Homo sapiens: one gene and its partners. Each later gene encodes a partner of the first gene's protein in a complex. Each region holds a gene or a part of one and is shown on either strand. Other genes may lie near its edges. The genes, in order: EXOSC8, EXOSC3 and EXOSC1.

Region 1 (3,748 bases):
GGACGGCAGTTCTCTTTCTAAATAAATATGTTTATATAAAAATAGATTATACCTATTACATATTTTACACATCTATCACAAGTTTTACACACACATTAAATGTTACTTCAAATGGATTAATTTAAATTACTTGAAATTCATCTTTAAAAGCAGCTCGTTATCAAAACGCATAACATGTACATAACCTTTACTCACCAGAAATCTCCTGTAATACTCCAGAGGTTCCACGGTTCTGAAACACGTGTTAAAAATATATCTGAGATAAACTGATGAATCTTAACATAAATCCAGAAATTGGCAAAGATCTTAAGTGTGGTGATGCAGCATAAATCTCCACAACTTTTTAACTAAAAGTAATTCTAGAAAGTAAAAATCCTTGTAGTAGCAATCACATTCAATTGCTGTCCTTAACTCTGCCATAAACGATTAGAAGATTGGCGTCTAAAAGCCCTTTGAGTGAGCTCTTTAAAAGCTCAATCTGTGTCAAAAGAATCATGTCGTTCTTGCTCTGAAACAAGGATTCAGAGTGATCTAGTGATCATGAAAAAAGATTATTTTAATAATCTAGTGATCATGAATAGTTAACCTCTTACTAGATAACTCAGGAAACAAAAAGGTACATCTTTATTTTCACTGTAAGTGAAATTTAGCATATTCTTCAATTATGACTGTAAGCAATAAGCCATAGTAACATTAGCAGTACCTGCAACTTTAACAACCACGGAGACCACAGATGTTTTCGTTTGCACCCTTTAGCTGTGTAAGGTATGTTCAGGCTCACCGTTACTTTGAAATCCCAGGAGTTACTACTAGTCTCGCCACTAGATCTTGTTTACGAAGGTTAATTTTAAACCAAGTATATATACTACTATATCGTGTCTTCGGAGTTTATACTCATAGATAACTATTTCAACATAATGGATTTCCTTTGGAATCCTATTTATTTTATCCATTTTTTAAAAACTTTAAGAAAGTCCACTGGCTTCACACACACAAAAACCTTCCAAACGAGGCATGATCCTTTTAGAAATAAATTACGGGAGAGGGAGAAGCAGGCGGTATGTGGTTCTGATGCAACAATCTTGATTGATTGATTCTGACAGAGTCTCACTCTGTCGCCCAGGCTGGAGTGCAGTGGCGCGATCTCGGCTCACTACAACCTCTGCCTCCCGGGTTCAAGCGATTCTCCTGCCTCAGCCTCCTGAGTAGCTGGGACTACAGGCGCCCGCCACCACGCCCGGCTAATTTTTATATTTTTATTAGAGACAGTGTTTCACCATGTACACCAGGCTGGTCTCGAACTCCTGACGTCAGGTGATCCGCCCGCCTCGTCCTCCAAAGTGCTGGGATTACAGGCGTGAACCGCCGCGCCCGGCCACAATCTTTAAAAGATTACAACTATGTCTCCTGGGACTGCACGTTCACTACACACCACGCTCACGAGCGCTCGCAGCGGGTATGGAACTCTACAGAGTCCTTTCATCTCCCGTCTCACTGAGGAAGAAGCCCTTTCTTTTCACTGTGACAACCTCCAGGTCCTCCCGCCCATCGTCTGCCTCGACGAGGAAGGAAATGGCACCCCAACGGGGTCGGCCTCCAGGTGAGAGAATCCCAGCTAAGAGTTAAAGGAAGCTGCCGTCCGCCAGGGTACAGAACTCTACCCGCCACCCGCCAACACTCACTTGAACCCAGCCGCCATCTTCCCGCCCGCGCGTCTGCGCCTGCGCCGCTCCTCTCCTGCGCGCCTGTTCCGCCGCCGCACTTTCGACACGGATGCCGGGGCCGCTCACGCCACGGGAAATGCCAAGGTGGGGACGCGACGAAAGGTCCCTGGCCCGCCCTCGCATCGACTTTCCCCTGCCCAGACGCCTTTCTAGGTTTCCTTGCCTTGGACGTATTTTGACGAATCTGCTGTTAAAGAAGGAGCGGGTCTCCCTCTTTATAAAAGAGCTGGTGCTGTGACTCAGAATAACACCAACAGTTCGGAGATAACAGGGTTTCTAGCGCAGAATCAAGCAGTGCGTGTGGAGCGTTATTCCAATGTTTCTGCGTCTTTTTTCTGCCTGTGACTTAGGCTCAGCCCTGGCCTTGCCTCTTCACTGGTCAAGGGCTCCGTGCTCCAACACATGAGAAACCTGAACTTTTTTTTTTTTTTTTTTTGAGACAGAGTCTCGCTCTGTCGTCCAGGCTGGAGTGCAGTGGCGCGATCTCGGCTCACTGCAAGCTCCGCCTCCCGGGTTCACGCCATTCTCCTGCCTCAGCCTCCCGAGTAGCTGGAACTACAGACGCCCGCCACCGCGCCCCGCTAATTTTTTGTATTTTTAGTACAGACGGGGTTTCACCGTGTTAGCCAGGATGGTCTCGATCTCCTGACCTTGTGATCCGCCCGCCTCGTCCTCCCAAAGTGCTGGGATTACAGGCGTGAGCCACGGCGCTCGGCCGAGAAACCTGAACTTTCTGTGCGCTCATTGTCCGCACCACGTTCTGCTCTGCAGGTCCCGGAGCTGAGGGCTCCTAAGCATCACCTTGTGTTGTAGACTGTGTCGTGCTCAAGGCTGCCATCTCCCTCCTAGGTGGGGTTACCAGATAAAATACAGGATACCACGTTAAATTTGAATGTCTGATAAACACAGCGTGGTTTTTTTGTTTTTTGTTTTTGTTTTTTTGTGGGTTTTTTTTTTTTTAAAGCATGAGTATGCCCCAAATAGAGCATGCAATTAGTTGTTGCCAGAACCTGGAGGGAGCTGGGAAGGCTTTACAGATAGATAGTGGTGATGGTTGCACAGTATGTATGTAATTAATGCCACTCACTATTGTAAACTTAAAATGATTAAAATGGCAACTTTTTATTTTACCACAGTTTATAAAAACTAATGTAATAAACCAGAAACCTGTAACTGGATGAGTCGTATGGTATGTGGCTATCTTAATAAGGCTGTTAAAAACATGATTAGTTTTTTAATCTGAAATTCAAATTAAGTAGACGTCTTGCATACTTGATAAACCTGGCGCCCCGCTGTGGAACCTAGCGCTCCTCTCCACCGACTGGGCGCCGAGGGCACGAGAGCGGCGTTTTCTCCGCCTCGCCACGCGGGGGCGCTGCGGCCAGCGGGCGCGACCTCTCTGGCGGCGGGGCCGGGTCGCGCGGGCGCGCTTCCGCCTGTGTGGAGGTGCGGGATTGGGCGGGCTGCCACGGCATGGAGAATGGCTCCGCTTCTGTTGCAGCTGGCGGTGCTCGGCGCGGCGCTGGCGGCCGCAGCCCTCGTACTGGTGAGAACAGGGATGGGAACCCGCGCAGGCCGGGGCTTACCGCTCTCCTGGAGACTGCGGCTCCTCAGGCGTCCCCTCCTCCGCGCTACCAGTTCTCGGAGAAGTCCCTTTTCCCCTAGATTCCCCCAAATTCCTGACCTCGGAGTTTCCTGGAGTTTCACTCTCCTTTTCTTCGGTTCTTTAATTTTCCCTTGGAATCTTATCTCTTTGTGTGCTCAGAGACTTGTAAGTTTTTTCACACTGGAGCGCACCCACCCGGCCTGGCATCATCGCCGCTTCCATCGCCCCTGGCGCCCGCGCCCCCTACCCACCTCCTCTGTCAACCTCGACCTCTCCCAGACTCTCCGGGACCTGCAGCCGCTGCAGTTCTGCTCCACCCAGGGAGGTCTCGAGCCCCCAGAAGGGGTGTGCTCCCTAGCCTGCTCCCTTGGCTGATGTGGTTAAGCAAATAGGGGTGACGGAGCCTTGACGGCAGCCA
Region 2 (3,748 bases), on another chromosome or scaffold:
TACGTCTCAAAGAATGAGAATGTGTTCCATAGGGTGCGAAGGGATAGTGCAATCAAGACAGTGGGAACAGCATGTGCAAATAAGGGCAGGAAATTGAGTTTAATGGCGTTTGGTGTGATTTGAGTATGGCTGTATGAAGGATATAATTAGGGATGAGGAAAGACACCTGGAGTGTAATGCCAAGGAATTCTGTAGATTTTGGAGAATCTTGTCTTTTCGAGAAAGTGACCGTGTGAGGATGTCAGCTCTCAAAATCCTGGATGGTGAGGTAAAAGCGTGGAGGCAGGGATTAATGAAGAAGTGACTGAGACCAGTCAAGAGGGAGCTGAAGCCTGAACTTGTGGAGATAAAGGGACGGACATGCCAAAGATCAGAGACAGAATCAAATAGGATCAAAATAGGATTAAGCAACTAAATTTGCATGAGAAGTGAATGAGAAGAGGTGAAGAAATCACTAAATTTCAGGCTGGATAGACAAGAAGAGTGTGGCTATGCTACCTGAAAAGCTCAAATTGAAAACCCAAGGTAACAATATTACTCCTCTATCAGCTCCTAGGACCTACAGCCAGGATGGATGGATAGCTGATAATGTCAATTTGCACCACCTGTCCCTCCTCTAAGCCTACAGCAGACATCCTTGTCCAGAGGATATGGACATAACAAATAATGGCGATGATAGATACAACCTTTCAACTCAGTAGAAATGAAACATCCCAAGAACAAATGTAGCCAATGTAAAATAAATTGTAAATGTAAAAAATAATAATAATAATTATGTGGCTCTGATCCTGGAGCATCTGAAGAAACTCTTGGAGCCTGGGGCAATTATATACAAGCTCAGAGATCTAGGTCATGCTTTGGAGACAATTCAGATAGCCTTCTGGATATGTGAGTGTTCTAGGGAATGGATGTTTGTTTCTTTGAAACCAAAGGCTCCCGTAATTACCTGCACATTTGGTCTGTTTCTTTTAGTTGCACCTTCAAATGACAAGTAAGACAAAGAAGCTGGCTCACTCCCTCCAACATCAACTTTGAATATATCTCCAGATTTAGCTGTCACTATGCCAATCACATGGTCTCCTTTTACTGGAACATACTACAAAAAGAAACAGAATGAAAAAACAGCCATAAATGACAAGATACCATTGGAAGATACCTTCAGCAAGTCCTTTGTGGTTACTTTATTGTCATTAAAGAGAAATCTGATCAAATGCCACTTTCGGTAAAAGAAAATCACTTCATAAAGTGCCGGGTGTGCAGCTTCTGGTAGTCTGTTAATTGAGTCCAAACTCCATTATCTCTTAGGCACCCCAACCAGTAAGTCTCTAGCTTTGTGGCATAAGTCCAGTGGCAAAGGAATCCTTACAACCAAGGAAGCCCATTCCATAGACAATTTTTTCTATATGAAATTCTTACCTGTTCTAGGAGAAATTAACTCCCTATGACATCCACTCATTGAGCCTAGTCCTGCCCTCTGAGACTCCAAACGGCAGGCCTGCTGTGGGGTTTTGAAGACTATAATCATGACTCACGGTCTCCAAACGTTTTTCTCTCCTGGTCGCCCTTCTCAGGCTATGTTCCTATTGTTCACGGTCCCTCTAAAGGACATGCAGAAGTGGGCACAAGACTACGGTGGCTCTAGGTTTGCCTGAACAAAAGAGGGCCTCAGGGTCCCTCTCTTCTTTTGGGAGGTCTTCTCAAAGCAGGGCTACCACTCTCACTGCCGCACCACCCCTCCGGAGTCCCAGCTCACCCGCTTCTGCTGAGAGTCCACCCAGTAAACACCGCCGCCGCTGCCACTGCCGGGCTCCTTGTGACGGAGGCGGCCGCACTTGGTGACCAGCAGGCGGTCCCCACAGCGCCGAAGGCCCGGACCGCATACAACGCGCACCCGCGAGCACGCTCTAGCATTCAGGCTCAACGGTCGCTCCACTGCACCCCCAGGGCCTTCCGCGTCCTCCTGTTCCGGCAGGAGCAGCTCCTCACCCGGGAGCACCACCTGACCTAGTACTGTGCGTGCAGCGCGCGCCCTGCTGCCCGCGAGAGATTCAGCCGCGACAGACGCAGGTTCGGCCATCGCGGGCTCCACCAAACACCGTTTCCGGTACCCGCCTTCCGCTTCCGCTCCGCTTCCAACACCCGCCCTTGAGGACTTTCCGTTTCCGGCAGTAGCGGTCCGTTGGATTCGGACCAGTTTATGAAGCTTGATGGCCGTCAGCTCACGGGTCCCTGTCCAAGGTGGCAGTGATTGTGGCCGGCCACCTATCTGACAGCCTGGCCGCGGGTCGGTATGAAAACCGCGCAGCTTGGTCCATCGAAAAGCCTCCACTTCCAGTGTCTCGGGTCGCGTGTTTTGTGACCGGTCGCATCGTGGGGATACGAGATACTTCCACTTAAGAGTTTCTTGGGATCTCTGGAAGCTGAGCAGAGGGGCTTTGAAAATTGGACGCTGGGGCCGGGCGCGGTGGCTCACGCCTGTAATCCCAGAAGTTTGGGAGGCCGAGGCGGGTGGATCATTTGAGGTCAGGAGTTCAAGACCAGCCTGGCCACCATGGTGAAACCCTGTCTCTACTAAAAATACAAAAATTAGCCGGGCGTGGTGGCACGCACGTGTAATCCCAGCTACTCGGAAGGCTGAGACAGGAGAATCACTTGAACCTAGGAGGCGGAGGTTACAGTGAGCCTAGATGGTGCCACTGCACTCCAGTCTGGAGGACAGAGTGAGACCCTGTCAAAAAAAAAAAAAAAAGGGAAATTGGACGCTAGGTGGGTTCATGGGACCTTCTTTCCGACTCCGCCCTCAGAAGAGTGGCTGACCTTTTAACAGGAAAAGTAGTTTTTTTCAAAATAAATAAAACCTTCTTGGTTGTTAGAGATCTAGTCACATTTAGAAAACACAGAGAAAAATAAAAGAAGAAAATAAACGATGTTTTAATCTTGCCCGTTTTTCTCCCTTGCTACACTGTAGTTCTGATTCTTTAGAGCCCAAGGTGTGGCATGAAATAGGTAATACCTGATGAATGAACGAATGTATTCCTTTGGTGTGTATTTCTCCCTAGACTTTTTCCCCCTGCAAATATACATATTTCACATGCTTCCGATAGCCCTACATGGCCTGGAATATCAGTAACTCAAATTTCCCTGGAGCACACTTAGTTGCGCACGTGAGAAGCAGTTGAATTCCAAACCCAAAGAGATTCCAATCATCTATCTGACTTTGGGGGTTCTATTTTAAATCACCGTTTTCTCTGTCAACTCGAACCTTCAATTAGTGCTTGATCAGATTCTCCAGCAGTGGTAGAATTCCTAGGGTCTGGGAGGCCGTGACTGACCGATTGCCTTTAGCGGCCCTCCCTTTCTACTGCTCATCTCTTTGAGGCACCTGCTTCCAACGTAATTTTTAGATTTTTTTTTTTAGACGGAGTCTCGCTCTGTCGCCCAGGCTGGACTACAGTGGCACCATCTCGGCTCACTGCAACCTCCGCCTCCCAGGTTCAAGCAATTCTCCTGCCTCAGGCTCCCGAGTAGCTAGGATTACAGGAGTGCACCACCGCACCTGGCTAATTTTTGTATTTTTAGTAGAGACAGCGTTTCACCATGCTGGCCAGGCTGGTCTTGAACGCCTGACCTCAAGCGATAGGCCCACTTTGGCCTCCCAAAGTACTGGGATTACAGGCATGAGCCACCAAGCCCGGCCGAATTTTTAGATTTTTTAGGATGATTAAGACAGATCATCTCTAACACACCC
Region 3 (3,748 bases), on another chromosome or scaffold:
ATGAAATGTTTATAAAGCACTTAGCACAATACCCGGCTCATGGAAGTACTCAATAAATATTTGTTGAATGAATGACCTGGAGGGATGCAGAAGTGGAAAGCCTGGCCAGATGTCTATCTGTCCTACAAATACCAGCAAGGACACTCCTGCCAATGTGGTAACACTAAATAAGTGTCTGCTGTTATCATTCTTCCTGATTCATAAAGAGAGAAATACAAACTGTTATTAAAATCATGGCACTTAGGAGCTAGAAGTCGTTTTTGAAAACAAGCCCAACCAGAAATCAGCCCAACCGTGTAAACAGAAAGCTCCTAGACGCACAGATACAGATTTGGGTGAACAAAGTCTGAGGCTAGGGCCTCTCTCCATTAGCTAATGGGGTATGGGATGCCAGGAAAATTACATATGTAGTAAGTGGGCCGCAACTGAACACACAGACTTTTCTTTTTTTTTTTTTTTGAGATGGAGTTTCACTCTTGTTGCCCAGGCTGGAGTGCAATGGCACAATCTGGGCTCACCACAACCTCCGCCTCCTGGGTTCAAGCAATTCTCCTGCCTCAGCCTCCTGAGTGGCTGGGATTCCAGGCATGTGCCACCACGCCTGGCTAATTTTGTATTTTTTTAGTAGAGACCGGGTTTCTCCATGTTGGTCAGGCTGGTCTCAAACTCCCGACCTCAGGTGATGTGCTTGCCTCAGCCTCCCAAAGTGCTGGGATTGCAGGCGTGAGCCACCGCACCTGGCCCAGACTTTTCATCTCAAGAAATAGAAGTAAAGCAAAATTCAAAAAGATGTGTGTAGGGGAGAAGGGGCTAATCTCAGTGAACGGGAGGAAACAGAGCAAAGCGCAGCTTTACTACCACCCCAAGCACAAGCCCGAGTACTCTGATCCTTCAGTAATAGTCACAGGCCATACTGGTCATCTGCCACCAGACTGGAGGAGATTGCTGGCCACAACACTCCCCTCTTCCCATGGCTTTAAGTCACATCTGTTTCCCAATGGGAAAGTCGACTGAGGGGACAGGGAAGGACAGACGGCAAAGCCATCAGAAGTCAGGTGAACTGAGATCAAAGTCGTGGCGAATGTCATCTGGACAAAGACGCTGCTCTCAGGATGTTTGCAATCTCAAGTAGGAGATACCCAACATCAATAAAGAGTAGCATTTTATTCATGTGCAGACCTCCCTTCTGGGCTAACACGCTGAGAAGAAAAAGAGTAACAACTTTATTTTGGGGCTGCTTATCTTTTGATGACGGGCCCACACAACCAGAGTTCGGCTTTTTCAACCAGAGAAAGCTTACTGAAGTGGGGATGAGGGGCCGCGAAGAGGATCGGACCGCAGGACTGGAAGCTGCAGTTTAAAAAACCGGGAAAAGGCCGGAGGCAGTGGCTCATGCCTGTACTCCCTGCACTTTGGAAGGCCGAGGCGGGCGGATCAAGAGATCAAGACCATCCTGGCTAACATGGTGAAACCCCGTCACTACTAAAACTACAAAAATTAGCTGGGCGTGGTGGCGCGCGCCTGTAAGTCCCAGCTGCGCGGGAGGCTGAGGCAGGAGAATCGCTTGATGCCGGGAGGCGGAGGTTGCAGTGAACAGAGATCGCTCCACTGCACTCCAGCCTGGCGACAGAGCGAGACTCCTCAAAAACAAAACAAAAAAACCGGGAAAAGGTTTTATTTCTCAATGACAGCCGCGAGGTGAAACTGCGATGGACTGGAAGTCAAAAACCGTGGGTTCCAGTTTGGGCTCTATCTTAACTATCTTGATCATTTTGGACAAGTCAAACCCTGTCTCTGAATCTGAGGTTCCATATCTGTGAAACAGACGAGTTGGGTCGCTTGACCTCCTTCCCTCCTGCTCTGAGCGTAACGATTGCTCGGAAGGTGCGCTCGGGCTGAGGAGGGCACGGCCCCGCAGGGCGGGGCGAGGAGAGAGCAGGAACCCGCACTCAAGACAAGGCCCCAGGGCAGTGCCCTACCCAGAAAAAGGGACTAGGATGGGGAGCAAGGGCCGAGGCTTCGCCCTTACCTGCCGCCTGCCGACTCCCCAGTCAGCCAAACCGAGCCCCGTAGCCTCTGCCGCCGCTCACTGCCACCCCCTCCGACTCGGCGCCCCGGCCGGGCCCGGCTCAATCCAAACCACCATGGCCCGCCGCCCGCAGCGCCAGGCAGCGGACCCGGACCCGCCGCCAGCCCATCCTCAACCACACGCGCAGGCGCCAGCGTGGACCTCTGAAGTTCCGCCCCCGGATTTGTCCCGGGGTAACCTGGGAAATGGAGTTTACTCGCAAGGATAAAGAGTACCAATTGACACGTGTCTTACTGCGGAACTGTGCCTGGGTTTGGCCAATGAGAAATCGACTTCGTTTTCATCCTGGTTTTGGGACAGCGGCAATCATGGCGCCACCTGTGAGATACTGCATCCCCGGTAAGTGAGCGCTTCCCGTACAGAGTCCTGGATAGGGGCTGAAGCAAGAAGGCTAAACGGCCTACAGCTTCTGGGGGCCCGTGACCGATGCAGCATTTTTTCTGCAGGCGAACGTCTGTGTAACTTGGAGGAGGGCAGCCCGGGCAGCGGCACCTACACCCGCCACGGCTACATCTTTTCGTCGCTTGCCGGCTGTCTGATGAAGAGCAGCGAGAATGGCGCGGTAAAGGAAGCGGCATGCCATCTCCCCTCTGTTTTTCCCTTAGGCTGCCCTTGAGTTCCAGTCCTTAGGCATGGGCACTGCGGACGCGTCTTTAGTGCCTCAGTGGTACAATGTTGGTCTCTTAGTTTCTTCTAGCCGTATCGCCGCTGTGGTGCACTTAGCCACCACACACTAGTTGTGTTGATCTCGCTTGGTTGTGCTGCTGACCCTCGGGGAGGGAAGTTGGGACAAAAGCAGATGCGAACTCAGTATCCCATCCCAGCCCAGCTCAGCCCAGCAGTGAGTTGCATACTGTATGAATGTTGCTTACCTTTCCGACTTTATCTAGCGCCACTATCTCCACCTCACTGACGCAATCTAGTCATACTGTCTTTTCTGTGTTTAAAAGTTATAATCACAGTCTCTGCTTGCCCTTTAAAAATTTTTTATAACATACTAGCTTCTTTCAGTGTCGGTAATGCGCCAAGCTTTCTCCTGCTACAGAGCCTTTGTAACATGCCATCTATCTGGAACGCTTCTATCTTCCTAGGCCTATTTAATTCCTACCTCCTTTAGATAGCTTCTCTACTATCACCTCAGAGAAGTCCTTCTGGACCCACTAATTGAGGAAAGGAGTTTTGTGGGGTGTTTTGTTTTTGTTTGTTTTGTTAAAGACTCACAAAAAACTCTGTTCCTTTTCTTCCAAGCACTATGTCAGCATATGATGAGACACTCAGGTATATGTTTCCTACTAGACTTCTCCCCTGCTTAAATCTAAGTCCGTGAAAGCAGGCCCTACCACCATACCATCCGTATATAGCACAAGGCAGCTCCTCAATAAATGTTGAATGTGTGAGTAATACCTACCTTTCTAGTTTCAGAGATAGATCCAGGATTAGCTCAGGATCATATAAGCAATATTTGAAGGAGCACAATAGAAAGAGGATTCAGAATTAGAACAGTTACGTTCTGGCTAACTTGACTTTGATTCTGCTTTGAGTAAGTAACTTAAGCTGTCTGATTCAAGGGGCTTTCTATTCAGTCATTGTTGGGAATGTTCTTAACAGTCCTGAGTTTGTTCATTTCATAGATATCACTTGAGTATTTTCATGTGTCAG

What was found.
Region 2: EXOSC8 (region 1) and EXOSC3 share a complex: the UniProt entries of both Homo sapiens proteins name them as parts of the RNA exosome core complex.
Region 3: EXOSC8 (region 1) and EXOSC1 share a complex: the UniProt entries of both Homo sapiens proteins name them as parts of the RNA exosome core complex.

The regions. Positions count from the first base shown.
Region 1 is NC_000013.11:36,998,757-37,002,504, reverse strand, and holds the start of EXOSC8 (exosome complex component RRP43), read right to left. Parts: upstream 1,720-3,748; 5' UTR 1,700-1,719; coding exon 1,683-1,699; intron 233-1,682; coding exon 196-232; intron 18-195; coding exon 1-17. Other genes in the region: ALG5 (dolichyl-phosphate beta-glucosyltransferase), read left to right, coding at 3,205-3,270. UniProt on the Homo sapiens protein: Non-catalytic component of the RNA exosome complex which has 3'->5' exoribonuclease activity and participates in a multitude of cellular RNA processing and degradation events.
Region 2 is NC_000009.12:37,782,968-37,786,715, forward strand, and holds the start of EXOSC3 (exosome complex component RRP40), read right to left. Parts: upstream 2,098-3,748; 5' UTR 2,078-2,097; coding exon 1,754-2,077; intron 1,097-1,753; coding exon 947-1,096; intron 1-946. UniProt on the Homo sapiens protein: Non-catalytic component of the RNA exosome complex which has 3'->5' exoribonuclease activity and participates in a multitude of cellular RNA processing and degradation events.
Region 3 is NC_000010.11:97,444,635-97,448,382, reverse strand, and holds the start of EXOSC1 (exosome complex component CSL4), read left to right. Parts: upstream 1-2,376; 5' UTR 2,377-2,397; coding exon 2,398-2,428; intron 2,429-2,535; coding exon 2,536-2,651; exon of another isoform or gene 2,652-2,888; coding exon of another isoform or gene 2,889-2,930; intron 2,931-3,748. UniProt on the Homo sapiens protein: Non-catalytic component of the RNA exosome complex which has 3'->5' exoribonuclease activity and participates in a multitude of cellular RNA processing and degradation events.